7 linked regions of the Homo sapiens genome follow. The protein of the gene in region 1 interacts with the protein of each later gene in a pairwise test. Each region holds a gene or a part of one and is shown in the gene's direction. Other genes may lie near its edges. The genes, in order: BET1, MAGEA6, SLC7A14, TMCO5A, TMEM237, MFF and ADORA2A.

The links.
Region 2: the proteins of BET1 (region 1) and MAGEA6 interact in binary tests that used the Homo sapiens proteins (3 or more experiments, as listed by UniProt).
Region 3: the proteins of BET1 (region 1) and SLC7A14 interact in binary tests that used the Homo sapiens proteins (3 or more experiments, as listed by UniProt).
Region 4: the proteins of BET1 (region 1) and TMCO5A interact in binary tests that used the Homo sapiens proteins (3 or more experiments, as listed by UniProt).
Region 5: the proteins of BET1 (region 1) and TMEM237 interact in binary tests that used the Homo sapiens proteins (3 or more experiments, as listed by UniProt).
Region 6: the proteins of BET1 (region 1) and MFF interact in binary tests that used the Homo sapiens proteins (3 or more experiments, as listed by UniProt).
Region 7: the proteins of BET1 (region 1) and ADORA2A interact in binary tests that used the Homo sapiens proteins (3 or more experiments, as listed by UniProt).

What each region holds. Positions count from the first base shown.
Region 1 is NC_000007.14:93,994,356-93,997,855, reverse strand, and holds part of BET1 (BET1 homolog), read left to right. Parts: intron 1-1,534; coding exon 1,535-1,591; intron 1,592-3,470; coding exon 3,471-3,500. UniProt on the Homo sapiens protein: Required for vesicular transport from the ER to the Golgi complex. Functions as a SNARE involved in the docking process of ER-derived vesicles with the cis-Golgi membrane.
Region 2 is NC_000023.11:152,766,890-152,770,861, reverse strand, and holds the start of MAGEA6 (melanoma-associated antigen 6), read left to right. Parts: upstream 1-1,172; 5' UTR 1,173-1,208; intron 1,209-2,936; exon of another isoform or gene 2,937-3,000; 5' UTR 3,001-3,066; intron 3,067-3,146; 5' UTR 3,147-3,211; coding exon 3,212-3,972. UniProt on the Homo sapiens protein: Activator of ubiquitin ligase activity of RING-type zinc finger-containing E3 ubiquitin-protein ligases that acts as a repressor of autophagy. May enhance ubiquitin ligase activity of TRIM28 and stimulate p53/TP53 ubiquitination by TRIM28.
Region 3 is NC_000003.12:170,478,076-170,481,575, reverse strand, and holds part of SLC7A14 (solute carrier family 7 member 14), read left to right. Parts: intron 1-409; coding exon 410-1,287; intron 1,288-3,500. UniProt on the Homo sapiens protein: Imports 4-aminobutanoate (GABA) into lysosomes. May act as a GABA sensor that regulates mTORC2-dependent INS signaling and gluconeogenesis. The transport mechanism and substrate selectivity remain to be elucidated.
Region 4 is NC_000015.10:37,933,208-37,937,439, forward strand, and holds the start of TMCO5A (transmembrane and coiled-coil domain-containing protein 5A), read left to right. Parts: upstream 1-1,432; 5' UTR 1,433-1,487; intron 1,488-2,049; 5' UTR 2,050-2,098; coding exon of another isoform or gene 2,099-2,130; 5' UTR 2,131-2,141; intron 2,142-3,106; coding exon of another isoform or gene 3,107-3,116; coding exon 3,117-3,256; intron 3,257-3,639; coding exon 3,640-3,763; intron 3,764-4,138; coding exon 4,139-4,189; intron 4,190-4,232.
Region 5 is NC_000002.12:201,633,504-201,637,003, reverse strand, and holds part of TMEM237 (transmembrane protein 237), read left to right. Parts: intron 1-118; coding exon 119-256; intron 257-3,500. UniProt on the Homo sapiens protein: Component of the transition zone in primary cilia. Required for ciliogenesis.
Region 6 is NC_000002.12:227,345,751-227,349,250, forward strand, and holds part of MFF (mitochondrial fission factor), read left to right. Parts: intron 1-1,475; coding exon 1,476-1,634; intron 1,635-3,500. UniProt on the Homo sapiens protein: Plays a role in mitochondrial and peroxisomal fission. Promotes the recruitment and association of the fission mediator dynamin-related protein 1 (DNM1L) to the mitochondrial surface.
Region 7 is NC_000022.11:24,430,599-24,434,098, forward strand, and holds part of ADORA2A (adenosine receptor A2a), read left to right. Parts: intron 1-298; exon of another isoform or gene 299-964; intron 965-1,649; exon of another isoform or gene 1,650-1,836; intron 1,837-2,022; exon of another isoform or gene 2,023-2,128; intron 2,129-2,532; 5' UTR 2,533-2,806; coding exon 2,807-3,138; intron 3,139-3,500. UniProt on the Homo sapiens protein: Receptor for adenosine. The activity of this receptor is mediated by G proteins which activate adenylyl cyclase.

The sequences.
Region 1 (3,500 bases):
ACCAGAATGCAGGTTTTCTATTGTACTTACTTTATATTCTATATAGCACTTAGCATAATTCCTTATCAATGGTGTTGAGTAAATTTGTATTGAACCAAAGAATTACACGAAGATGATTTTAATAATATATGTGATTGATACTGCATTATAATGAACATGACGTTCACTTATAAAGCATTCAGTAGAAGCCCATGTTGATAAAACTTAATTGGTATTTCAATATAGTCTTTGGAAAATCGAATTACATTCAGTCTGGAGACCTTTAGATTTTGAAACAGGATTGTTTTCAAAGTCATATTAAACTAAAGTTGATTTATGAACTAAGTAATATTGTATAATGTTAATTTTAAAAATACAACACTTGGAAGGACTTAAGAATTAAATGCCTTTAAAAACCCCCCCAATGTAGATAATTTAGATTACTTGTTAGAAGAAAGTTGTGATGTCCTGGAAATATTTTTCCTTGGCATGAATGACAGTGATAGAAGTTGAGTAATGTGGGCAGTCTAGCTTTATAGTTACTTTATTATCTCTGAGTTGTTAAATCTGGGAGGAAAGCTCATGTTCTGATCTATAGAATTCTAGTATGGTTTTGTATCAGTATTATCCCATGTGCTTTCACACAGATGAAGAACAATATTTGCAGTGATTTACCAAGATTTTCAGTAGATGATTCTATTTATTTAAATATCTTGGAAGTGAAGCCTTTGATGAATCTGTCCTATAAAGTATTAGATAGATTTTGGTTTGAATAGTTGTCATAATTAGCTATAGTATTGTATTTTGTAAGCTATGGCTCTTTTCTTCAGAGCTTCAGGAAGTAAGTAACACTAATATTTATTTTTTTCAATTTATTATCATATTTTAAAGCAAAAACCTTTAAACTAAGGAAAAATCAGTTTAGACATATTTAAAGTAATGTAACATTTCATTAGGAAAATATTAAATACTTCTGTCTAGATTTGAATTGGTTGTATGGGTACTTCTAGATCTTTCAAAATGTAATAAGGTTGGGTACTAGGCTTAATTCTTGGTTGACGAAATAATCCGTACAACAAATCCATGTGACATGAGTTTAACTGTATAACAAACCTTCACCTGTACCCCCAAACCTAAAATAAGTTAAAATATATATATATAATTTATAAAATATAATAAATAAAATGTAAGAAGGAAATATACAGATATTTGTAGGAATTTGTAGCTTTTGTAGGAATATAATAAAGATATAAAAGCATACAAGGTTAAGAGAATCAGAGAGAAGTAGTACATACCAAATTAAAAGATGGAATTGAATATTAAGATGAAATTAAAATAAAGAGGAAAGAAGAAATGTCCATAATTGGGAGGAGTAGAAATTCCAAATTTATTTTTTATTGATCTTGGTAGAAAAAGTATCAGAAAAAGAGAGTTTATGTGTCTAGAAGACCGTTTCATTTCAGAAAATGTGTATGCTTAGAATGACATTATTTTTACTTTATAACACTTGAATACTTTTATGTGAGTAATCCTGTGTATACCTTCTTCTTTATAGCTTTCCATTGAAATAGGCCATGAAGTTAAAACCCAGAATAAATTATTAGCTGAAATGGTAAGTGGTTATGATTTTAACTTTAAGAAATTTGATCTAATATTCGCAAATAATAGAATTTCAACTTTTATTCATTTTGAAATACAGAGATCGTAAGTCCTTGATTCCCGTCCATTTGTATCTAATGTGTTTGGAATAACTATAAGGTTTATTTTGCCATGCTTTTGCATTTTTCATCTCGTCTTACGCATGTAAGTGGGAGGAACAAGTGGAAGCCAATATATCTTTAATCCTGTTTTTAGAATGATTGTTAAAAACAAGACAAATGACTATTTTGAGTAGTCTTAGAAGTCTCAATAGTAGAGACTACTAGTAATTTATTAACCAAGCAATCAAAAGGCACTTGATATCCAACCAACTAAATGTCGTTCACTTAATGGATACTTACTCTTTTGCTTGATTTCCTAAGGATCACTTATGAAAAAAGTGCTCATACATTTGAACAGCCCAGAGCCTTTTCTCTCTAACAACATATACCTTTTCTTGTTAGAGTCCCCTTCCATTTGTTAACGTTTATCTTGAATGTCAAGCTTCTCTGAACCTTCTCTGGTTCCATGTGCTTTTAAAATTGTGCTATTCAAAAATGAATTTGGCATCAAAAGCAATGTTCTTGCTAAGCTTGTGCGCTATAATAAGCTAGGGACCTCTTTAAAAATGTATATGCCTGATTCTGTCTTTAAATATACTGATTTAGAATTTCGTGAGGAGGGATCTAGATGTAAATATTTTGAAAAAAGCATCTCTGGTGATTCTGATGCATAACCATGAAAAAGCATCTCCGGTGATTCTGATGCATAACCATGGTGAAGATCCATAGATCTAAAGTATATGAGCCACATAGACACTGAGCTATACAAAGGATATTTATTATTATGCCAGGGCTTTTACATCTCAGGATATTATAATTTCTATGAAAGTATGTGTAATATTTCTAGTCCCTACCTAAGCCTCTCTCATCTTTAGGATTTTCCAGCTATGTTTTAATACGTTAGTTTTTCCCCATCCATATTTATAGTCCTTATCACATTTTACTACCTCTATATGATATTCTCTTAACTTAATAGACTCTACTTCAAAGTCAGCTGTCTAAACAAAAGGATATTAAAAGTAAAGGTCCAAGGCCTAGCATGGTAGCTCACGCCTATACTCCCAACATTTTGGGAGGATGAGGTGGGCGGATTACCTGAGGTCAGTAGTTCAAGACCACCCTGGCCAACATGGTGAAACCCCATCTCTACTAAAAATACAAAAAAATTAGCTGGGCGTGGTGGCGTGCGCCTGTAGTCCCAGCTACTTGGGAGGCTGAGGCAGGAGAATCACTTGAACCTGGGAGGCAGAGATTGCAGTGAGCTGAGATTGCACCACTGCACTCCAGCCTGGGCAACGAGCGAGACTCCGTCTCTAAATAAATAAATAAGTAAATAAAAGTACATTTAACTGCTAACCGTATTACATTTTGGATGAAATCCTCTACTTGGGTAGCAGTCAACCATTTGACCTTGGAGAGCAATGGCACAACAAAAAGTGGGGAAAAAAATCTGTGTGATAATGCACAAAGTACTTACATTTATTGTTAATTTTTTTTATCCACATAATTGGAATAACACCTAAATAGTTTTGAGTTGTTGAATTACTCTGTGGAGCTGAAAGAAGTGTTTATTGGACAATGAAAGAGCTTTTTATTCGCTGAGAGTATTACTGTATTTTGCATGGAGAAATCAGGCTGATTATCCAAGGTTATCAACAGGCTCCTGAATTGATTAAACACAAAACTGTCATTACAAATGTACTATGGTAACAGTTATTCAATTACTTGGATATGCATATGTAGACTCTTAGAATCTAACTGTGATATTTTATTTGCCTTTATCTCTGATAGGATTCACAATTTGATTCCACAACTGGATTT
Region 2 (3,972 bases), on another chromosome or scaffold:
CATTACAACAAATTTGGGCTGCTGTGCTCTGCTTCCCAAATCAAACCTGGAAAATTACAGAATGGAAACAGTAAATAAAAAACCAGTATCAGCAACAAAACAGGGAAAGCCCAGGGTGAGACTCAAGGCTGTGTTGAGCTGGTACTTGTGTTTGACACTTGCAGTGTTGGTTGGAGGGGGTTAGCAGCAGGGATGTTGGGGAGGTTTGTAGCCGGCCTACACGGTAGATGACAGAATGGGTAGAATAAAAGTTTGAAATTTTCCACTTCACTTCTTTGCACAATCTGAGGCAGCCTCTGAAAACACGATGCCAAGAGCCCTAGGTAATAGCAGGACACCAGGAAAATTTGGTTGGTTAAGGCAGTATGACTCCAGAGTTCTGCTAATAACAACCTGAAACCACCATAGTGGGAGAGGAATTACATTTTTTAAAAAAAAAAATTCTTTCAACAGAACACAAAGACTGAAATAGGAGGTCACTACAACCGCGGGAGCTGCCGCCCCGCCCTGCAGGGAGCACCTGGCCTGGGACCCGCAGGCATTCTCTACAAGGGGTGCAGCTGTGCAAATGCTCACAGGTGACAGAAACAGAGCATCTCCTGCCCATCACTTCATCCAACAGCCAGAGGTGACGAAAACGACCCTCCTGAGTGAGGACTGAGGGTCCACACCGCCCCCCCACCCCACACACCATAGAGGGACCACAGAATCCAGCTCAGCCCCTCTTGTCAGCCCTGGTAAACGCAGGCAGTGATGTCACCCAGACCACACCCCTTCCCCCAATGCCACTTCAGGGGGACTCAGAGTCAGAGACTTGGTCTGAGGGGAGCAGAAGCAATCTGCAGAGGATGGCGGTCCAGGCTCAGCCAGGCATCAACTTCAGGACCCTGAGGGATGACCGAAGGCCCCGCCCACCCACCCCCAACTCCCCCGACCCCACCAGGATCTACAGCCTCAGGACCCCCGTCCCAATCCTTACCCCTTGCCCCATCACCATCTTCATGCTTACCTCCACCCCCATCCGATCCCCATCCAGGCAGAATCCAGTTCCACCCCTGCCCGGAACCCAGGGTAGTACCGTTGCCAGGATGTGACGCCACTGACTTGCGCATTGGAGGTCAGAAGACCGCGAGATTCTCGCCCTGAGCAACGAGCGACGGCCTGACGTCGGCGGAGGGAAGCCGGCCCAGGCTCGGTGAGGAGGCAAGGTAAGACGCTGAGGGAGGACTGAGGCGGGCCTCACCTCAGACAGAGGGCCTCAAATAATCCAGTGCTGCCTCTGCTGCCGGGCCTGGGCCACCCCGCAGGGGAAGACTTCCAGGCTGGGTCGCCACTACCTCACCCCGCCGACCCCCGCCGCTTTAGCCACGGGGAACTCTGGGGACAGAGCTTAATGTGGCCAGGGCAGGGCTGGTTAGAAGAGGTCAGGGCCCACGCTGTGGCAGGAATCAAGGTCAGGACCCCGAGAGGGAACTGAGGGCAGCCTAACCACCACCCTCACCACCATTCCCGTCCCCCAACACCAACCCCACCCCCATCCCCCATTCCCCATTCCCATCCCCACCCCCACCCCTATCCTGGCAGAATCCGGGCTTTGCCCCTGGTATCAAGTCACGGAAGCTCCGGGAATGGCGGCCAGGCACGTGAGTCCTGAGGTTCACATCTACGGCTAAGGGAGGGAAGGGGTTCGGTATCGCGAGTATGGCCGTTGGGAGGCAGCGAAAGGGCCCAGGCCCTCCTGGAAGACAGTGGAGTCCTGAGGGGACCCAGCATGCCAGGACAGGGGGCCCACTGTACCCCTGTCTCAAACCGAGGCACCTTTTCATTCGGCTACGGGAATCCTAGGGATGCAGACCCACTTCAGCAGGGGGTTGGGGCCCAGCCCTGCGAGGAGTCATGGGGAGGAAGAAGAGGGAGGACTGAGGGGACCTTGGAGTCCAGATCAGTGGCAACCTTGGGCTGGGGGATGCTGGGCACAGTGGCCAAATGTGCTCTGTGCTCATTGCGCCTTCAGGGTGACCAGAGAGTTGAGGGCTGTGGTCTGAAGAGTGGGACTTCAGGTCAGCAGAGGGAGGAATCCCAGGATCTGCAGGGCCCAAGGTGTACCCCCAAGGGGCCCCTATGTGGTGGACAGATGCAGTGGTCCTAGGATCTGCCAAGCATCCAGGTGAAGAGACTGAGGGAGGATTGAGGGTACCCCTGGGACAGAATGCGGACTGGGGGCCCCATAAAAATCTGCCCTGCTCCTGCTGTTACCTCAGAGAGCCTGGGCAGGGCTGTCAGCTGAGGTCCCTCCATTATCCTAGGATCACTGATGTCAGGGAAGGGGAAGCCTTGGTCTGAGGGGACTGCACTCAGGGCAGTAGAGGGAGGCTCTCAGACCCTACTAGGAGTGGAGGTGAGGACCAAGCAGTCTCCTCACCCAGGGTACATGGACTTCAATAAATTTGGACATCTCTCGTTGTCCTTTCCGGGAGGACCTGGGAATGTATGGCCAGATGTGGGTCCCCTCATGTTTTTCTGTACCATATCAGGTATGTGAGTTCTTGACATGAGAGATTCTCAGGCCAGCAGAAGGGAGGGATTAGGTCCTATAAGGAGAAAGGTGAGGGCCCTGAGTGAGCACAGAGGGGATCCTCCACCCCAGTAGAGTGGGGACCTCACAGAGTCTGGCCAACCCTCCTGACAGTTCTGGGAATCCGTGGCTGCGTTTGCTGTCTGCACATTGGGGGCCCGTGGATTCCTCTCCCAGGAATCAGGAGCTCCAGGAACAAGGCAGTGAGGACTTGGTCTGAGGCAGTGTCCTCAGGTCACAGAGTAGAGGGGGCTCAGATAGTGCCAACGGTGAAGGTTTGCCTTGGATTCAAACCAAGGGCCCCACCTGCCCCAGAACACATGGACTCCAGAGCGCCTGGCCTCACCCTCAATACTTTCAGTCCTGCAGCCTCAGCATGTGCTGGCCGGATGTACCCTGAGGTGCCCTCTCACTTCCTCCTTCAGGTTCTGAGGGGACAGGCTGACGTGGAGGAACAGAGGCCCCCGGAGGAGCACTGAAGGAGAAGATCTGTAAGTAAGCCTTTGTTAGAGCCTCCAAGGTTCCATTCAGTACTCAGCTGAGGTCTCTCACATGCTCCCTCTCTCCCCAGGCCAGTGGGTCTCCATTGCCCAGCTCCTGCCCACACTCCCGCCTGTTGCCCTGACCAGAGTCATCATGCCTCTTGAGCAGAGGAGTCAGCACTGCAAGCCTGAAGAAGGCCTTGAGGCCCGAGGAGAGGCCCTGGGCCTGGTGGGTGCGCAGGCTCCTGCTACTGAGGAGCAGGAGGCTGCCTCCTCCTCTTCTACTCTAGTTGAAGTCACCCTGGGGGAGGTGCCTGCTGCCGAGTCACCAGATCCTCCCCAGAGTCCTCAGGGAGCCTCCAGCCTCCCCACTACCATGAACTACCCTCTCTGGAGCCAATCCTATGAGGACTCCAGCAACCAAGAAGAGGAGGGGCCAAGCACCTTCCCTGACCTGGAGTCTGAGTTCCAAGCAGCACTCAGTAGGAAGGTGGCCAAGTTGGTTCATTTTCTGCTCCTCAAGTATCGAGCCAGGGAGCCGGTCACAAAGGCAGAAATGCTGGGGAGTGTCGTCGGAAATTGGCAGTACTTCTTTCCTGTGATCTTCAGCAAAGCTTCCGATTCCTTGCAGCTGGTCTTTGGCATCGAGCTGATGGAAGTGGACCCCATCGGCCACGTGTACATCTTTGCCACCTGCCTGGGCCTCTCCTACGATGGCCTGCTGGGTGACAATCAGATCATGCCCAAGACAGGCTTCCTGATAATCATCCTGGCCATAATCGCAAAAGAGGGCGACTGTGCCCCTGAGGAGAAAATCTGGGAGGAGCTGAGTGTGTTAGAGGTGTTTGAGGGGAGGGAAGACAGTATCTTCGGGGATCCCAAGAAGCTGCTCACCCAATATTTCGTGCAGGAAAA
Region 3 (3,500 bases), on another chromosome or scaffold:
ACAAAAATTAGCCGGGTGTAGTGGTGCATGCCTGTAATCCCAGCTACTCGGGAGGCTGAGGCAGGAGAATCACTTGAACCCAGGAGGTGGAGGTTGCAGTGAGCTGAGATCACGCCACTGCACTCCAGCCTGGGGGACAGAGTAAGCAGAGTGAGACACCATCTCACCAAAAAAAAAAAAAAAAAAGAAATCAAAGATTTAAAGTGAATTCTTTTTTAATTATATACCAAATCCTGGGGTAGGAATAGCAGCTGGATTTAAAGTAGTGAATGCAGAAGTAAATTGGTGGAGCAGGACCAGGAGGAGTTAATCACACCAGCCTATTGATAGTTCTAGCTCCCTATGTTGGCTGCACTGGAATCGGTCACTGTAGCTCACCATTAACCCTCTGCTTGCCCGGCCCCTCCAGGTTCCTGGCTCACGTCAGCTCCTACACAGAGACACCAGTGGTGGCCTGCATCGTGTCGGGGTTCCTGGCAGCGCTCCTCGCACTGTTGGTCAGCTTGAGAGACCTGATAGAGATGATGTCTATCGGCACGCTCCTGGCCTACACCTTGGTCTCTGTCTGTGTCTTGCTCCTTCGATACCAACCTGAGAGTGACATTGATGGTTTTGTCAAGTTCTTGTCTGAGGAGCACACCAAGAAGAAGGAGGGCATTCTGGCTGACTGTGAGAAGGAAGCTTGTTCTCCTGTGAGTGAGGGGGATGAGTTTTCTGGCCCAGCCACCAACACATGTGGGGCCAAGAACTTACCATCCTTGGGAGACAATGAGATGCTCATAGGGAAATCAGACAAGTCAACCTACAACGTCAACCACCCCAATTACGGCACCGTGGACATGACCACAGGCATAGAAGCTGATGAATCCGAAAATATTTATCTCATCAAGTTAAAGAAGCTGATTGGGCCTCATTATTACACCATGAGAATCCGGCTGGGCCTTCCAGGCAAAATGGACCGGCCCACAGCAGCGACGGGGCACACGGTGACCATCTGCGTGCTCCTGCTCTTCATCCTCATGTTCATCTTCTGCTCCTTCATCATCTTTGGTTCTGACTACATCTCAGAGCAGAGCTGGTGGGCCATCCTTCTGGTTGTTCTGATGGTGCTGCTGATCAGCACCCTGGTGTTTGTGATCCTGCAGCAGCCAGAGAACCCCAAGAAGCTGCCCTACATGGCCCCTTGCCTCCCCTTTGTGCCTGCCTTTGCCATGCTGGTGAACATCTATCTCATGCTAAAGCTCTCCACCATCACATGGATCCGGTTTGCGGTCTGGTGCTTTGTGGGTAAGCAACTTCCTTTGGAGCCTTAAGAGTTCCCTTTTAAGGTCTTAAGCATGCTTATCCCAAAATTACCTCCTAGCTGGACTAGGCAACTCCGTTCCCAGAGAAATCTGGCTGGTTCTATGGACCCTTGTGTTCCGCCTAAGAGTCAATAAAGCCAGTTGTCCCCTTTCTGCCTGTAATGTTCTTAGTCATTGGTTCTGGAAAAATGATGTTGATTAATCCATCGCTTTACTGAATTACTGAAAGTTCTTTCTATATCAGGATAATTAATACCAGAAAAAGTCCACTTAAAGTGAATCCACATTTTTAAGGTGACAAAAATAGCATAGTATAATTGGGGTCAGGGCATTTGGATGGAATTTTATCATAGAAACTAAGAATTGTAAAATGAAAAACTATCTTAGATTTCACAAAATTAAATTAAAATAGCAATTATGCTCTCATTTTTAAATGAACAAGGTGTGAATTAAGTGTGGATTTTTTGGCATAATTTTTCTGACAAAATTGAATCATGGCATCATTTAACATCTCTCACTTCATACTGACTTTTGTAAAATATTCAAAAGTTTTTCATATTTCCCAAGGTCCTTTCTTCATTCATTGACATTCCAATCATTCACTTGGGAAGTACCCATCATGCCACCATCCTTACTGATTTTCTCTCTCCTGCTGGTAATAACTAATATGACTCTGTTAGGTCCTCAATTGTCTACAATTTTGGGTGTGAATTCAAATTGTTCTCTAAACTCACTTTCACGGACTTCAAGAAGTCCTGTACCTTCTCTAAGATTTCTAATTTTACTTTGTGATCCATTTCTATTGTATTTGCAGTACTTGCTTATCATCTAGGACAATCTCTGATGTTCATGAGGTGGCTGGGGATTGATGCTAGTAAGAACTTGAGAAGTGTAATGGAAGACTCATTTTAAAGTTCCTTAGTCACTATTTGTATGTCCTCTGAACAACTTGGTAACCCTGGGGTCTCTGATAACAAATTCTTAGCTAAAGAGGATCTTTAGAAGCTCTGGGGAATAGAAGAGTAAACCCTGCCTAAAGGAGAGGCAAGACAAACACACGAGTCACTTAGCCCAAGAGAGGCCAAAGAGACTCTTTTTGTTGTTGTTGTTGTTGTTGTTATTTGTTTGTTTTGTTTTGTTTGTTGTTGTTGAGATGGAGTCTTGCTGTGTCGCCCAGGCTGGAGTGCAGTGGCTTGATCATGGCCCACTGCAACCTCCGCCAACCAGGTTCAAGCAATTCTCCTGCCTCAGCCTCCTGAGTAGCTGATATTACAGGTGAGTGCCACCATGCCCTGCTAATTTTTGTGTTTTTAGTAGAGATAGGGTTTCACCATGTTGGCCAGGCTGTTCTCGAACTCTCAACCTCATGATCTGCCCACCTCAGCCTCCCAAAGTGCTGGGATTACAGGCATGAGCCACTGTGCCCAGCCCACAGAGACTCTTAGTGATGAGTGGCAGTGCATCCACTCCTAGAGATCAGGAATACACTTGTTCAACATGTGTCCTCCGTGTCTGGAGCAGGGTGCCCGCAGTATGTGCTCAAAAATACTTCTTAAATTATTATAAAGTACTCTTCAAAGGGGAAAAAGGAAAACTTCCAGTCAGAATTGCCAGAAAAAACTTGGAGGGGGTAGAATACAAAGTGGCCCTATAAGTTAAGATATAGATAGAAAGAAGTGGGGGAAAAAGTAGCAACCAATGGAAAGGGCATATGTCTTCCCCAGAGGCCTGACTCCTTGCTTCTGAAGGCTGCTCTATGGCTTCCTGTAAGCATTTTGTCCCAATTTTTCACTATTCTAAGTCCCCCTGGTTAGACTTCAGGAGGATTTCTTGAGAGGACCCCACTGACTCATCAAGATTTTAACCAATTTTTATAACACATTTACAATCTCTTGGCTGGGCATAGTGGCTCACGTCTATAATCCCAGCACTTTGGGAGGCCGAGGAGGGCAGATCACCTGAGTTTAGGAGTTCGAGACTAGCCTGGCCTACATGGCAAAACCCCATCTCTATAAAAAATGCAAAAATTAGCCAGGCGTGGTGGCAAGTGCCTGTAATCCCAGCTACTTGGGAGGATGAGACAGGAAAATTGCTTGAACCCAGGAAATGGAGGTTGCAGTGAGCTGAGATCACACCACTGCACTCTAGCCTGGGAGACAGAGCAAGACTCCATTTCAAAAAATTTTTTTAAAAAAA
Region 4 (4,232 bases), on another chromosome or scaffold:
TCTTTCCTAAGATGGTGGCAGGTACAAGGAAGAGCTAGGTACCCAGGAAGCATCACAGGAAAAGCTTTGGGTTTTCATGCCTTCCCTTCATGCTCCTAGATCTGCTGGACTCTGTGTCCATCTCAGCACAACTGGAGGGCTTCTCTTGTCCACCAAGCTTCTTACCACATCTACACCCCACTTAACGGGTCTGAGAATGCTCAGTCGCTTCTTCTGCGCCACCCTAATTATACTTGCAACAACCTCCTCACTCTTACCTCCTTCACCTGTTTATGTTTCCTCATGGCAGTGTTACCAAGCAAAAGAGTGTCACTGCCCAATGTGCTGGAAGCCAATACTATGACACAAGGTTTGTGAGAAAAAAAAGGCTTTTTACTGTAGGTCTACTAACAAGGACACAGGAATCCAACTCAAATCTGTCTCTCTGTGCTGGCTCTCAGGCAGTACTTTTATTAGAAAAGGTTTAGGGAGTGGATTCTGGAATTAGCAAATGACTGGTAGAAGAAAAGGGGAGGTCTGGAAAGTCCTCAGGCATGCACGATTATCTCTTCATGCCTCCTTATGGGTCCCATGTGCAAATTCAGGGGAAATTAGTATAAAACATGCAGTGGAAATTCAAGCTGTGACATCAGTAAGCTTGTTCTGCACAGACTCCAGTTGGCCTTATTGGTTCCAACCAATTTCAGCTAGGTTTTTTGTTTTGAAATCTCTCAAATAGAGGGAGTTTCAGCATTTCAGCAAGTTGTTTATTTTCTTATCTGCTATTCTGCAAGCTCAAGAATTTGTTAGTCACTGGTTTCTTTAACTCTTTGGGGTAAAATTTCAGCAGTCTCCTCTTTTATCATATCAAGTAAAAATAATTTTATTTATTTTATTGATTGTGTTACCAGTCCCCCCTACACACACGCGCGCGCGCGCACACACACACACACACACACACACACACACACATCTTAGAATATAAACTTCATGAGGTCAAGGGCTTTTGGCTGCTTTGTTCATTCTTTCCCTCCAGTGCTTAGAACAGAGCCTAGAAGATACACATCGTGTTCATTCAGTGTTTCACTGTTTGTTGAATGAATGAGTAGTTAGTTGGCTACATGATGAAATTAGACTGCTGGCCAAAAGACCTAGACTTTCCATTTTAGTCACACTGAGGCAGGAAGAGAGCTTTATCTGCCAGAGAAATAAAAGATAGAGGTTGCCCCTTCAAACAGCCCAGAAATCAAATCCATTGAACCTACTGCTATCCAGGGAAGACTTGGCCATGAAATCCACACACTTATCTAGGCTCTGGACTCTACACAAATGATGAGAAACCATTGCCACCCACCCCACTATGACATGTTGCCCCGCCCATCCTATGTCATGACCTCTCAGAATGTTCTGAGATTCTATTGGATAGTTCCAGTGGAGAAAGATTAGACTCCTCAGAAGCTAATTGACTAGGGAAGGATCAGGAAGACAAGACACATCAAAAAGGGGAGGTAGAGTTTGTAGAAGAAATAAAGGGGAAAAAAAGAAACTAAGGGGAAGGGAGAGACAAATGATTTACATATACTTGGTTTTCTGAGCCCTCTTTAATACTAAAGATCTTAATATCTGGAAATTCTGGCATAAGCAAAGATAGAGAGCAAAGATTACTTTTCAGGGATATTGTAAACCTACATCCATGCCCATGGGGCTTTATGGAAAGCAACTGGCCTAGAGCAAAAAGAGACTTATTGATTATCTCTATTTCTTTATATTGTCTTGTATAAACTTCCACAGGGTTTTATGTTGATAAACCATCTCTGACTATATCTATTAATAGGACGTATATTCCAGCATTATCTCTGTATCCTGACTGTATCTTTAATAGGGTATAATCAGAACACGGGCAGAAGAATCAAAAGGCTGAGTTTTGTCATGGTTAAAATGTGGGGATTAGAGGGAGAAAATGAGTTAACTTAATTTGATTTCTACTTTTTGGGACTCTTCCCTAGTTACTGTATTCATAAATGAACCCATTTCTCCAATTCATTAGATACATCTCTGTTGGCATTTTAGGGAATCTACAATGGAAGGACACAAGAAAGATCAGCTGGATTAAGTAGTCATGATTATGCAAAGCCATATCCAGAGACCAAGGTGTAAAGCAGGTTCGCTATTGACCCCTTGCCTCATCTTCCAGCCTCCTTCTCCCCTTCTACTCCTGTTATGCAACCACCTCCGCACCCTACCCCAAGCATGCCATACCTTCCTGAAGTGATTACTGTAAATCCCCCATCCAAGCAAGCCCTTCCAAGATAGGACTTAACTTTCCAATATTATCCTTCATTCCTATCTAAAACAAAAGCCTCTGTGCCTCACTGTGCTAATAGTGGTTAATCAACTGAAACACAAACCAATGAATTAATTTACATTAGTAGAAAAAGAAAAATATATCAAGAGCCTCCCATGTACCCTTCCCAAAATACTCTAGAGTTACCATTATTTCATTTAAATTTACTTCAAAAAAGATATTTGCATTTTTGAAAGCTATGCCTAGAGCCTATGTGGGTGTGCTCAATGGAATTACTCTCATGGTAAAAATTTCAAACTTTGTAGCAGGCAAGTGAGGGAGAGGTGTTGAGGTGGGAGAAGGAAGGGAAAGATTGAAGCCCTATCATGCTGGTGGAAACCCCTTGTGGCTCTGCAGAAAGCCAGGCCCAACCAGAAGTGATATGCCAGGTGCTTAGATAAAAGTGTTCAATAAATGTGTATTGTATGAGCAGGTTTTGTGAATAGTTTATCTAAGAAAAGATTGCCAAGAGAAACATTTCTCCCCAGCGCAAGGGGTTATTTAAGGAAGCAAAGCTTCTCAAGAAACCAGAGTGAAGGTGCACTGTTAGATTGAGCACTTTGGAGGAGAAAGCCTGGGAAAGACCCTTGCTGACTGAGCTGCGAATTATCGAAACAGTTGTAGAGCATGATCAAGAAATGTAATTTTTCAAGAATGAAAATGGTATGCCCCCAGAGAGAGTAAGGTTAATAAACTAGATGTGTTCTAAATACCCTTTTTGGCCTGATGATTATTGATCTTGAGATAACTGGCCCTTGTTCATTTTGGGGGCTGAGTCTATAGGTCGGAGAAAATGGAAATCTCAAGATTGGCTCAGTCAAAAAGAAACATTATCAGTTTGAACATGGACCTTGAAAGGGATACGCAGAGAATAGATGAAGCAAATCAGAAACTTCTTCTCAAAATCCAAGAGAGGGAAGATAAGATTCAGAGGTGAGTATTAAGGTTTCATGAGGGAAGTTCCCAATCCAAAGAAGGGGTGGAGGACCAAAACCAAAACTGAATTTTCCTGCTTGTTCTAGAGACTTCTACCTTGTGTGGCAAAAAGTTAATTTTTCATTCTTTGACATTTCTCTTGAACACTGAAGCATAGCAAGTTTCAAATAGATTCCTAAAAGATGGAGTTGAGAGAACACTGGGGTGTTTGGCTTAGGAATCAGGCAGGTCTTCCTGCTTTATGGATTCAGTAAGGAAGAGTTTTCAGCTTGAGATTCATGTACACTGTCCCTGAAGTTCCCTTATATCTGAAATCTGTGTTTTATCAGTTCTGAAACTGCCAAGCATGGGTCCTCATGGCATGTGCTTGTGTTGTCCAGGCTGGAAAGTGAGATCATTCAGACGCGGGGCCTGGTGGAAGATGAAGAGTGGGAGAAGGAGAACCGCACCACGATGGAAAGGGAAAGAGCCTTGCAGGAGCTGGAGGAAGAAACAGCCAGACTTGTAAGCAAGAAGTTGGGAAGAGCCATTTAATAGGTTGCATTCCTCATTCCATCCTTCATCAATTATCAGATAAGCTTGTCTCTCCTTTTTATACATGAACAGTAGCCATCTCAAAAGTCATGATAAAATTTGTCCATGCGTGGAAGGGGATGTGTCTGGCTTCTTGGGCAATGTTTAATCATTGGGAAGCCCTGCAGATGGGCATCTATATCCCTGTATTTCACCTGTGGTTTGATTTCAATATACACATGACATTATGCAAATAAGGTCAAGTTACTGCAGGAAAATATAGCTGGGGTGAAATGGACAGCAATCAACTGAATAAGAACAGATGGAGTACAGAGGCAGATTTACACTGTTATTTCTCTCTCACAGGAAAGGAAGAATAAGACGTTGGTCCACAGTATAACAGAACTTCAACAAAAGGTGAGGTAGGGTACTTGTGTTCTCCAGTGCCCCCACAACAGCC
Region 5 (3,500 bases), on another chromosome or scaffold:
CTGAAAGAGATGGGGTTATTCTATAGGAAACATTCTAGTTACCTTTTCCTCCATCTTTTTAAGATTCAGTGATCTTTGCTCAAGTAATCTCATTTTTTTCTACTCTGTTTTTCTATAGCAAGTGCTTCTTTGGAAGGCCTTGCTCAGACTGCTGGTCGAAGGCCCTCTGAGGGCAATGAGCCATCAACTAAAGAACTCAAAGAGCACCCAGAGGCTCCTGTTCAAAGAAGACAGAAAAAGACAAGGCTACCTCTTGGTATGTGAAGAAACCAAGGTTAAGTTGTGATAGCACTTGTGATTTTGATGACATGATAAAAACCTCTCTGCTTTCATTTCTTTCCCCCTATCCATATCCCACAGGTGGTTTCTTGCTTTTATGTTTAAAATATTTACCACTAGAATAACTCCAATGGCTTAAGCCAAGAATACTTTACAGGTCTCTTTTGATCATATATGTATAGATTATGAGAGGAGGGCAACAAATACAGGACTAAACAGAAAGTTCAGATCTCAGTGCATAGAAAAATCTAGTAAATGATGAAATGGACATTTCAGATTAGTGGGGAAATGGTAGATTCTGTACTAACAATAATATAGTGAAACAACAGCTAACATTTGTTTAGTCTTTCTATGTCCCAGGCAGTTCACAAGGTAAATAAAATACTATACCATTTTTTGGCCTATCAAATTGGCAATGCTTTTTTCAAATTATAAAATCCAATATTGATGGGAAATGGGTGCACTCATGCTTTGCTCATAGGAGCATAGATACAGCCTGTCTGGATTTCTGGGAATAGTAGTAAATTCAATAGCTGCAGTAATTAAAGGATGTTAACTGCAGCGTTATTTATAAGAGTAGAAATTGGTAATGACCCAGATATTTAACGGTGTGATACTGGCTAAATAAATCATACTTCATCCATAAATAGGAACCAGGTACCCATTAAAAGGATTGTTAGGGTGACACAGATAATCATCAGTTGTGTATTATTAAATCAAAGAACAAAGGTTATAAAATAGTATGTATTGGAGGATCCCATTTTTGTAAAATATACTATGTTAATTTCTTAGGGTTGCCATAACAAATTACCACAAACTGTGTGACTTCAAACAACAGTTTATTTTTTCATAGTTCTTAGGTGAGAAGTCCAAAATCAAGTTGTCTGCAGGACTATGCTCCCTCTGAAGTCTCTAGAAAAGAATCCTTCCTTGTTTCTTCGAGCCTCTTTTTTTTTTTTTTTAAGATGGAGTTTCACTCTTATAGCCCAGGCTGGAGTGCAATGGTGCGATCTCAGCTCACTGGAACTTCTGCCTCCCGGGTACAAGCGATTCTCCTGCCTCGGCCTCCTGAGTAGCTGGGATTACAGGCATTTGCCATGATGCTCGGCTAATTTTGTATTTTTTAGTAGAGACAGGGTTTTGCCATGTTGGCCAGGCTTGTCTTGAACTCCTGACCTCAGGTGATCCGCCCACCTCGGCCTCCCAAAGTGCTGGGATTACAGGTGTGAGCCACCGCGCCTGGCCATTTCTTCTAGCTTCTTATGGTTGTTGACAGTCCTTGGCATTGTTTGACTTGTGGTGGCATAATGCCAATCTCTGCTTCCATCTTCACATTTTTCCTTGTGTGTCTGTGTCCACATTTCCCTCTTATAAGGATATCAGTTGTTGGATTTAGGGCCCATTCCAATCTAGCATGACCTCATCTTAACTTGATTTCATCTGCAAAGACTCTTGTTTCCAAATAAGGTTACACTCACAGGTATTATGAGTTAGGACTTGAACATATCTCTTTTTGGAGCACAGTTCAACCCAGAACGTAAATATGTACATACATCTACATAGTAAAAAGAATGGAAGAATATAGCAGTGTTACAGTGGTAGAAGTTTTAGAAGGAGGAAGTATGATTTTTAAAATTTTCTTCCTTCATTTATTTTACTAATTTTTTATATTTTGAGCATTATGACTTTTATAATAATTAGAAAAATGACAAAGAGTTGTATTGGAGCAAAACTCAGGGAAGGAACAAAGATGGGGAGATTAGTGCTCTCCTATTAACATCAGCCCTTATTAATAATTTATTATAATTTTCCTAATTACTTGTCCTTCTAGAAAACGGCGTGTCTTGATTGGATGGAAGAATTATAGGAGTAGAAGGGCAGGAACTAGAAAAGTCAGGAGAATGGAGCATAATTTTGGAAGGCAAGTTGAAGTGGGATGCCACAGTGCCTGGGGGCACTGAGGGTCTATGAGAACGAAGGGGCGGATGATGGCAGAAGAAGGAAAAGAGACAGAAATGGTGCTCAGACTAGCTTTAACTACTCTACAGTTTATTTCATTAGTGGCAGTAAATGTAGTTTCATTAAAAGTGCCCTTTTAGTAATTTAGTTAAGATACAAGTTTAAAAATCAAGATGGATACCAATACCTAGTTTTATAATTTGTGAAAAGTGTGTTTACAGAAATGACTTTTTTAGAAAATTCAGGACCCAACTAAGTTTTGAATCAAAAAGGACCTGTCATTGCCATTCCAAAGTACACCAAGCCTGGCAGGTTCACCTTTCTAAGTTTCTGGATTTAAAAATTGTGTTTTTATTTATTTTGTTCAGGATGACCAATGGTAGGCTCTACTGCTTGCATTATATTTCCAGTCGAGGCTGTAAGTATTTTATTACAATAGAATTGTAAGGTCTTGAAGGTATTCCAGGGAGCTAGTATTTCCAGGTAGGAAGAGTAGCTAGTGGATTAGAAGAAGGCTTCACTGACTCATTTAAACTTAATACCTACCCTGTGTGCAGAAAAGAGTTAATATAGCAGACCTGAGACTGCTATCCTTGGAAAAGCCTGCTGATAAGATTGGCCGTTAGCTGGCATCTGGGAACTTGGATGATAAACAGCTCCCTACACTGATAGAAAACTTTCCCTAAATTATAAGGTGACTCACGGTGCATTTGTGCACACATAGTGATTTTTGCTGAACATCTGTTTCCCTTCCGGGCATCCAGAATTTTGGTATGTGCTAGGCTTATGTGACTAGCCCCTAACCTTGGGCACTGTCTCTGATGAGCTTCTTTTGTACAACATGTGTCACATGTGTTGTCACAACTCATTACTCTCCAGTAATGTTAGTACATCCTATTTGACTCCACTGATAGAGGACTCTTGGAAGCTTGTACTTGGTTTCCTCTGGACTTGGTCCATGTACTTTTTCCTTTTGCTGATTTTGCTTTATATCCATTTGCTGTAGTAAACCATAATTGTGAGTGTGATGATTTCCAAGTCCTGTGAGCCCTTCTAGAAAGTCAGCGAACCAGGAGATAATCTTGGGAATCTTCAGCACAGCCTGGGTATTGGGTTACTTAATTTTTTTCCATATTGTTTGGCATTACAATTTCAATTTTTACATTGAGAGTTTAGAAGTATAACATTTTTAAAAAATTAAAAATTTGTAAGATAGTGAAAACATTTTTGCCCAATTAAAATTCTTGAAGTTCTTTTCTCTT
Region 6 (3,500 bases), on another chromosome or scaffold:
CATGGATCAGTAGATAATGTTGGCTTATATGTATTCCCAGAGATTGCCAGTCTCTGGACGGACATTTAAGGTCACTGGTCATGAGACTGCATCTGAAAATTTGAGTTTATCTTGACACCAAATTTGACCTAAATCCTATAGTGAATCAGGCTTGATAGATAGTTGCTTTATACGTTAAGATTTGGCTTAGATCTTTTAAGTAATCTTTGAAAAACATGGTTTTCATATTATGGTACTTCTGTCTTTGGATCACCAAGCCATTCAAAGTTATTCATAAAGCTGTGGAGGAGATTTTGTTTTTTAATTTTCTGGGACTCTGGGAATAATATCAGATGACTATAACTATCCTGTCAAAAATTATCCCACTTATTTTGTAGTTTCCAAACAAATACATGCTGTTAGAAAAGATTACACAGTCAAAATAAGAGATTTTCTTTTTTCAATTGTTTACCATCTGCTTTGTTTTTATTCTTTCAGATGTAATACACATTGGATGACATTTAGCCTGATGTTAGTTTTGCCTTGACGTTGAGAATGTTGAGCCCTCATTCCACTGTCGTAGTCTGTATGTCAGTTAAATACCTCACAATAGATAATCATACTGTAATGTTAAACAGCTCCCTGAAAATACTGACACAGATCTTAAGAGTTTAGGTTAGAACCATAAGAATTGGTTCATTCAGCTTTCAGAAAGCACTGGCAGGGGAGTCAAATGAAATTGTGAATCTCAGCCCACACATGAAAGAACGATTAAGATTATTGTCACTAAGAAGCCCAGAAATGGTTATCAGCCATTGATAATTTAAGAAGTGTCCTTGCCTTCTTTTGCTGTATTCACAGATTTGGGAATATTTTTATGCTTTAGTCATTTAACTAGAGAACATATGCTTACTATAATTAAACAATCAAAATGCTTTGTTACCATTTTCTAAGACTAATTCATCCTTAAATCAGTGTCATTTATTCGTCATAAACTTCAACTTCATTGGCTTTACGAAGTGTTTGAAATGGTGTTTTTATGGAATCACACTTTTGATTCATGTGTTTAAACTTTGACATCTGTATGTGAGAATTCCCTGTCCTACTCTTCTAATCATCCATAAGTCGACAGCAGTGTTGTTTCTTAGAAGTTGGTTTATTGAATTGGAATATAAACACGAAGTAAAGAATGCTGCTTCTCCATGGGAGGGGTTGAACACATTCATTGCTGTAGTTCTCTTCCCTCTCTACAGTTCTTTCATATTCAGTTTATTTATTTTGATGTTTAGGGTTACAAAGTTATAAGTGCTGCCTTGTAGCTAGTTTTTGGAAACAATTCAAAATATTTATTCTTTGACTGTTTTCTTGTGGGGAGAGTGAAGGGTGGGAAAGGGGCAAGAACACTAAGAAAATTAAGATAAAGACTGCTCAGCTGAAGTTTTATAAAAATCTGACTTGAGTGTTTTTCTCTTCATTTGCTGTGCTTGTGTAAACAGTGTGACACCATCGCCACAACAGGCTCGGGTCTGTCCTCCCCATATGTTACCTGAAGATGGAGCTAATCTTTCCTCTGCTCGTGGCATTTTGTCGCTTATCCAGTCTTCTACTCGTAGGGCATACCAGCAGATCTTGGATGTGCTGGATGAAAATCGCAGGTGATTGGCCATCCGTGACTCTTGACAGCTTTATTGCATATTTTTTGGCCTCTTGTTTAGTGGACTGTGGTGTCTTTCTTTTCTGTTTTTACCTTCTAGCCTCTTTCTAAGATGCAATGATTTGAAACAGCTTGCTTTACTTTCTTTTAATTTGAAATTATTGTCCAAAATTCACATTTCACAAGATTACATTAGCTTTCCTTCTGTCAGGGAGAGTATACATAGAAAGTGTAGTGATTTTTTTCAAAGGCTTTTCTAGCCTACTCTAAGTACTTGATTCCACTTAGGGATATGCCAAGGGGCCCCGTCCCATTGGATTGAGTGTTAGACTGAAGTTTACTAGTCCTCGTTAGTCTTTTGATTTAATCATTTATGCTGCTGATATGATTGGATTAATAAAGCAAATCTGAGGAGGTGATGTCAGCGCAGCTGCCAGGACACTTTTTTCCTTTCCTCTCAGCTACGGATTTCTAGGCTTGTTTTGAAAATTCCAGGTGCTATCATCTTTTTGATAATACTGATATTTTTCAGTGTTGATAATTTATCTCACTTTTGAACATCTCCAGGTAAAATCATCAGTAGTATACTTAGACTTATTCATACAAATAATTTTTTTGCAGTTATCTCAAGTACTTTTTGTCCTTGCTTTATTACTACATAATGTTTTAAAGGAAATTCAGGGAGCTTTTTTGGCATAGTGTGGGAAAGATAGAGTCAATTTCATTTCAACTCTGAACATTTATCTAGTGGCTTCTGGTAGTCAGGGTTTGAATTTTCATGATTATTTAATTGTTACTTTTTGCATTTTGAAGAATTTCACAATAAATTAAGCTATCCCTTCTAATAAATCCTGTTTCTTACCTTAGGAACGAATATGACTTCTGACTTGCACTGGACAAACTTTTTCTTGTTGAGTGCTTGTAGTCCTCACACAGGCCCTGGGTATGTCACCATACTTCGTAAGCACCTGTCCATGCTACTTATCATTGTTGAATCCAGGGCCTTTCTGAGCCTTCCCAGAGTTGACCTAGTGCTATGCATTTGGGCCCAAGGACTGAAAGCTGCACTAAGAAGAGCTTAAAAAGAAAGCTCATGGCATGAGGGTGTGGGGAGGGGAATTATATATACATGTATATGTATAGATCTGTTTTGTTTGTTTTTCCCCAAGGGTTTAGACTCCCTTTTATGCTTTTTGAAGCTTCAAAGCCATTCTTGGACTATTGGGAAGCTGTAAGAAGCAGCAAGGTTCAGAACAAAAAGCATGGATTCAGGGAGTCAGTTAGAATTAACCCGGATCCACCCCACTACATAGCTGCATGATGGCCTTGAACAAATTGCTTAGCTTCTTTTGGCCTCACTTTTCTCATCTGTTGAGAAATAGAGAGGAAGGGTAATAATATCTAGCTTTGTGAATTCTTGTGAGGATCTTCTCCCCTCCCCCACCTTTAATTATAATATAGGGATAATGGCCTCCAATTCTTTATTTAGTATGGTAGGAGATCTTTCAAACGATATTGCATATAAAGTAGCTGGCACTTAAGAGCTAATATTTACAAGGGCCTGTTTTCTCTTCCCTCCTTAAAACAGATTTATTGTCCATCAGCTAACTTGTTTAACTTTTTAATTACAATAAGTCCTTAGTGGAGACCAGATTATTAGGTGCGAGTATATCATATCAAATGCTATTACATTTAAAATATCTGAATGAGAGAGATATTTCCAAATCTTGTATAAAAAGTAATAATAGCTAGATGGCAGAGTCACAGTACATTAAAATTATATGTCCCAAAAAGTAAAAAAAGAAAAAAAATTATTTGTCCCAATTCCCCCTCACCAGCATATACACAGTTCATTGCAATAATGTGG
Region 7 (3,500 bases), on another chromosome or scaffold:
GCCCGTGAGGCAGGCGCCGATGATTTGACCCCACCAGCAGGGCTCTGGGTGATGGGACTGGGGAGTCCTCCTTCACTTTGGCAGACGTGTTATGTTCCACCTTGTTTGCCCCCAGCAAGGCCCTTGAATCTGGAGCGTGGTCTGGGGCTGCATCAGCCTTCTAGCCTGGGATGGTCAGATTGGCAGAAGGCTGTGGCATCCTTCAATGCAGATGCCCTAGAGAGGGCCGTGGTGGGAGGCAGGATCCCTGGGTAGAGGCGGCTCCTCAGTGGCCCACTGGGCCTCACTGGACAGTCGCCTGTTGCTGCTGCTGGTGGTGCTGGGCCTGGGAGTCCACCTTGGAGCCACAGGCCAGGCACCTGGGTGGGAGGCAGCCCGGGGCCAGCACCAGCTCCACTTGTACCTGTTGGGCAGGGGCTATCGTGAGTCAGGTGGGCCCTGGTGAGTACTGCTCAGGGAGAGAGGCCAAGAGCATCAGGGATAACTGTGTTCCTTGAGTGTGGCCAGGGATGGTGCCAGGAGAGCTGGTCTGGTGCATCCCTGCCAACGACACACTTTGTGAATGGCTGCCTGGCAAGTGCTCCATGGAAAGCAGGGGCTTGGGAGGACTCGGCCCTCTCCAGCTGCTGCAGGCCCTCCGTTGCTGCAGGGTTTCTGGCTCTGCTCTCTCCTTCCTCCTCCTGCTTCTGTGTCAATGCTCCATTCCCAGGCTCCTAGTAGGGGCAAAAGGGCCTGCTGGGTGCAGGAGAACCTCCAGTCCCAGGTATGGCTGCAGCCCGTGCCAATCCTGTTCCAGCCACTTGAGGTGCCGACAGCATTGGAGTTGGAGGGAAAGTTGGGGTCTGTGTGTTTGAGCTCTGTCACATGGACAATGGGGTAGAGGGGAGCCTGGCCCTTTGAACAGGGCTCAGGACCAGGAGTGACTTCCTCTCCAGGTTGCCAGTCCTGCTCCATCCCTCATGTCCTGGAAGAGAGAGAGAGACGAGGTGGCTGCCCGAGTCCACGTGAAAGGCAGCCTCTGACCTCTTGTCCCCAGGCAGGTGGTGGCGGCTGGCAACACACTCATAGGGCCCCATGAGGGTTCAGGATTGGAGGGGGTAGATTTGGGGGCCTCTTAGCTCTCAAAGAGGGGCAATTTAACGGGCAGAGGTCCATTTGGATCCAGACCATTCACAGGCTCGAAGGGGACACTGGGAGTTGGGGCTGGGCTCAGGCCTGCTGGGGAACCAAAACTTCTGCTTCTGAGGGGTGTCAGTAATTCCATTTTGACTCTGGGGGAGCCATTTTAAATCTGTTTATTTCCTTCTCATAGAATCATGGGTGAGAGCTGGCATGGCCCCTAGAGGTCATTTGGGGTCCAGCTGCCTCACCGTATCAATGAGGAAACTGAGGCCCAGAAAAGAAAAGCATTTTTGCCCAGAGTCCCTCAGTGAGTCCTGGTTCCGTACCTGCTTTCTGCCAGGGACCAAACTCCCGTTAGTCATTCCTGGTGTCAGCCAGGCAGAGGAGCAGGTGGGGGAGAGGGCGTGGGAGGAGGGAGGTGAGGCAGCTCCCTCCGAGTGGAAGCTCACAGTCAGCTGCAGCGCCGCCCCTGCCCTGACTGCAGCTGACTGGCAGGGGCACCTGGAGGCAGCGGGTTCGGGCGCAGTATGAGAGGGCTTACCCTCTGCGGCAGTGGGAGACAGGACCAGGCAGCTCCCCACATCCTTCCACATCCGAGCTCCAGGGGTCTCTGGCTTGTCCTTTCACAGGGCGGCTGGTGTCCCTTAGGTGGGTGCTGGTAGTTCCTGGGAGAGTTGACGGGATGGAGCAGGCCAGGGGGGCTGAGAAGTTGGCCTGGCGAGAGAAGGTGGGTGGGACTGGGAGAGCCTGGGCAGGGAGGGGCCTTTCTGGGAGGGAGTGTCATGGGGCTGGCCGAGATCCAGGACCCAGGAGACTGGCCAAGCTGCCACAGGAGGCCTGAGAGGCTGAGCATGGGGGGGCCAACACTGACAGACTTTAACAAGTTTCTGGCTCCCCCAGGAAAAAAACAGACCACATCTGATCCTTGGCCCTGAGTCCAGAGTGGGAGGCACCGTGACAACAATGCGCAGAGCAGGGAATGCAGGGAGCCATGGATAGTGCTGGGGTGAGCTGGAGTCCTGGCAGGGGCCCAGCTAGGGCAGTACTCATTCTGCAGAGCCTGGGAGAAGGGGCTGCCTCCTTGGGAGGGGTTTGTGTGGGAGTCTCAGCGGGAATTCTATTGGACCAGGGGAACCAGCCTTGCTCAGTGACTTCTCTGGGTGTCCTCCTCTAAAGTGAGGGTCAAATTCCCACCTCTCTCGCCTCCTGGCTATGACCACAGCAGACCAGGCAGGGCATGGGGCTAGGCGGGGTCAGGGGCCATCCTCAGGCTGACACCTGGCCTGTGGGTAGGGTGGGATCTGAAACTATAGGGTCTTCAGGGGGCCAAGTGTGGGGTAAGGGGTGGCACTTTCCGCAGGGCTCGCCCTCTGCAGATGGTTCAGCTTCTCATCGGCTGTCCCTTTGCAGGTGCCTCAGGAACCCTGAAGCTGGGCTGAGCCATGATGCTGCTGCCAGAACCCCTGCAGAGGGCCTGGTTTCAGGAGACTCAGAGTCCTCTGTGAAAAAGCCCTTGGAGAGCGCCCCAGCAGGGCTGCACTTGGCTCCTGTGAGGAAGGGGCTCAGGGGTCTGGGCCCCTCCGCCTGGGCCGGGCTGGGAGCCAGGCGGGCGGCTGGGCTGCAGCAATGGACCGTGAGCTGGCCCAGCCCGCGTCCGTGCTGAGCCTGCCTGTCGTCTGTGGCCATGCCCATCATGGGCTCCTCGGTGTACATCACGGTGGAGCTGGCCATTGCTGTGCTGGCCATCCTGGGCAATGTGCTGGTGTGCTGGGCCGTGTGGCTCAACAGCAACCTGCAGAACGTCACCAACTACTTTGTGGTGTCACTGGCGGCGGCCGACATCGCAGTGGGTGTGCTCGCCATCCCCTTTGCCATCACCATCAGCACCGGGTTCTGCGCTGCCTGCCACGGCTGCCTCTTCATTGCCTGCTTCGTCCTGGTCCTCACGCAGAGCTCCATCTTCAGTCTCCTGGCCATCGCCATTGACCGCTACATTGCCATCCGCATCCCGCTCCGGTGAGCAGGGCCGGGGTTACATCTGTGCAAAGGCTGTTGGTGCCCAGGCTTTGGTCTGTGCCCGGAGCCAGGGTGAGCCTGGGATCAGGGCCTGGTCTGCAGTGTCAGCATGGTGAGCTGGCGACGGGGCCCCAGGCTCAGCAGGGGCTCCCCAGGGCCAGCACGTGGCCAGCAGTCATGCCGAACTGACTGACCCCTATGGGCGCAGGGCAGCCTGGCCCTCCCAGGCGGCCTGGGTTCCCCTAGGCTGCCTGAGGCCAACTGTGCTCTGCTTTTTGGCAGATGAGTGTGGCCAGGGTCTGGCATTGGGCTTAGCAGGGAGCTGTGGTCCCAGTGACCCACGTGCTGCCAGCGGGTGTGTC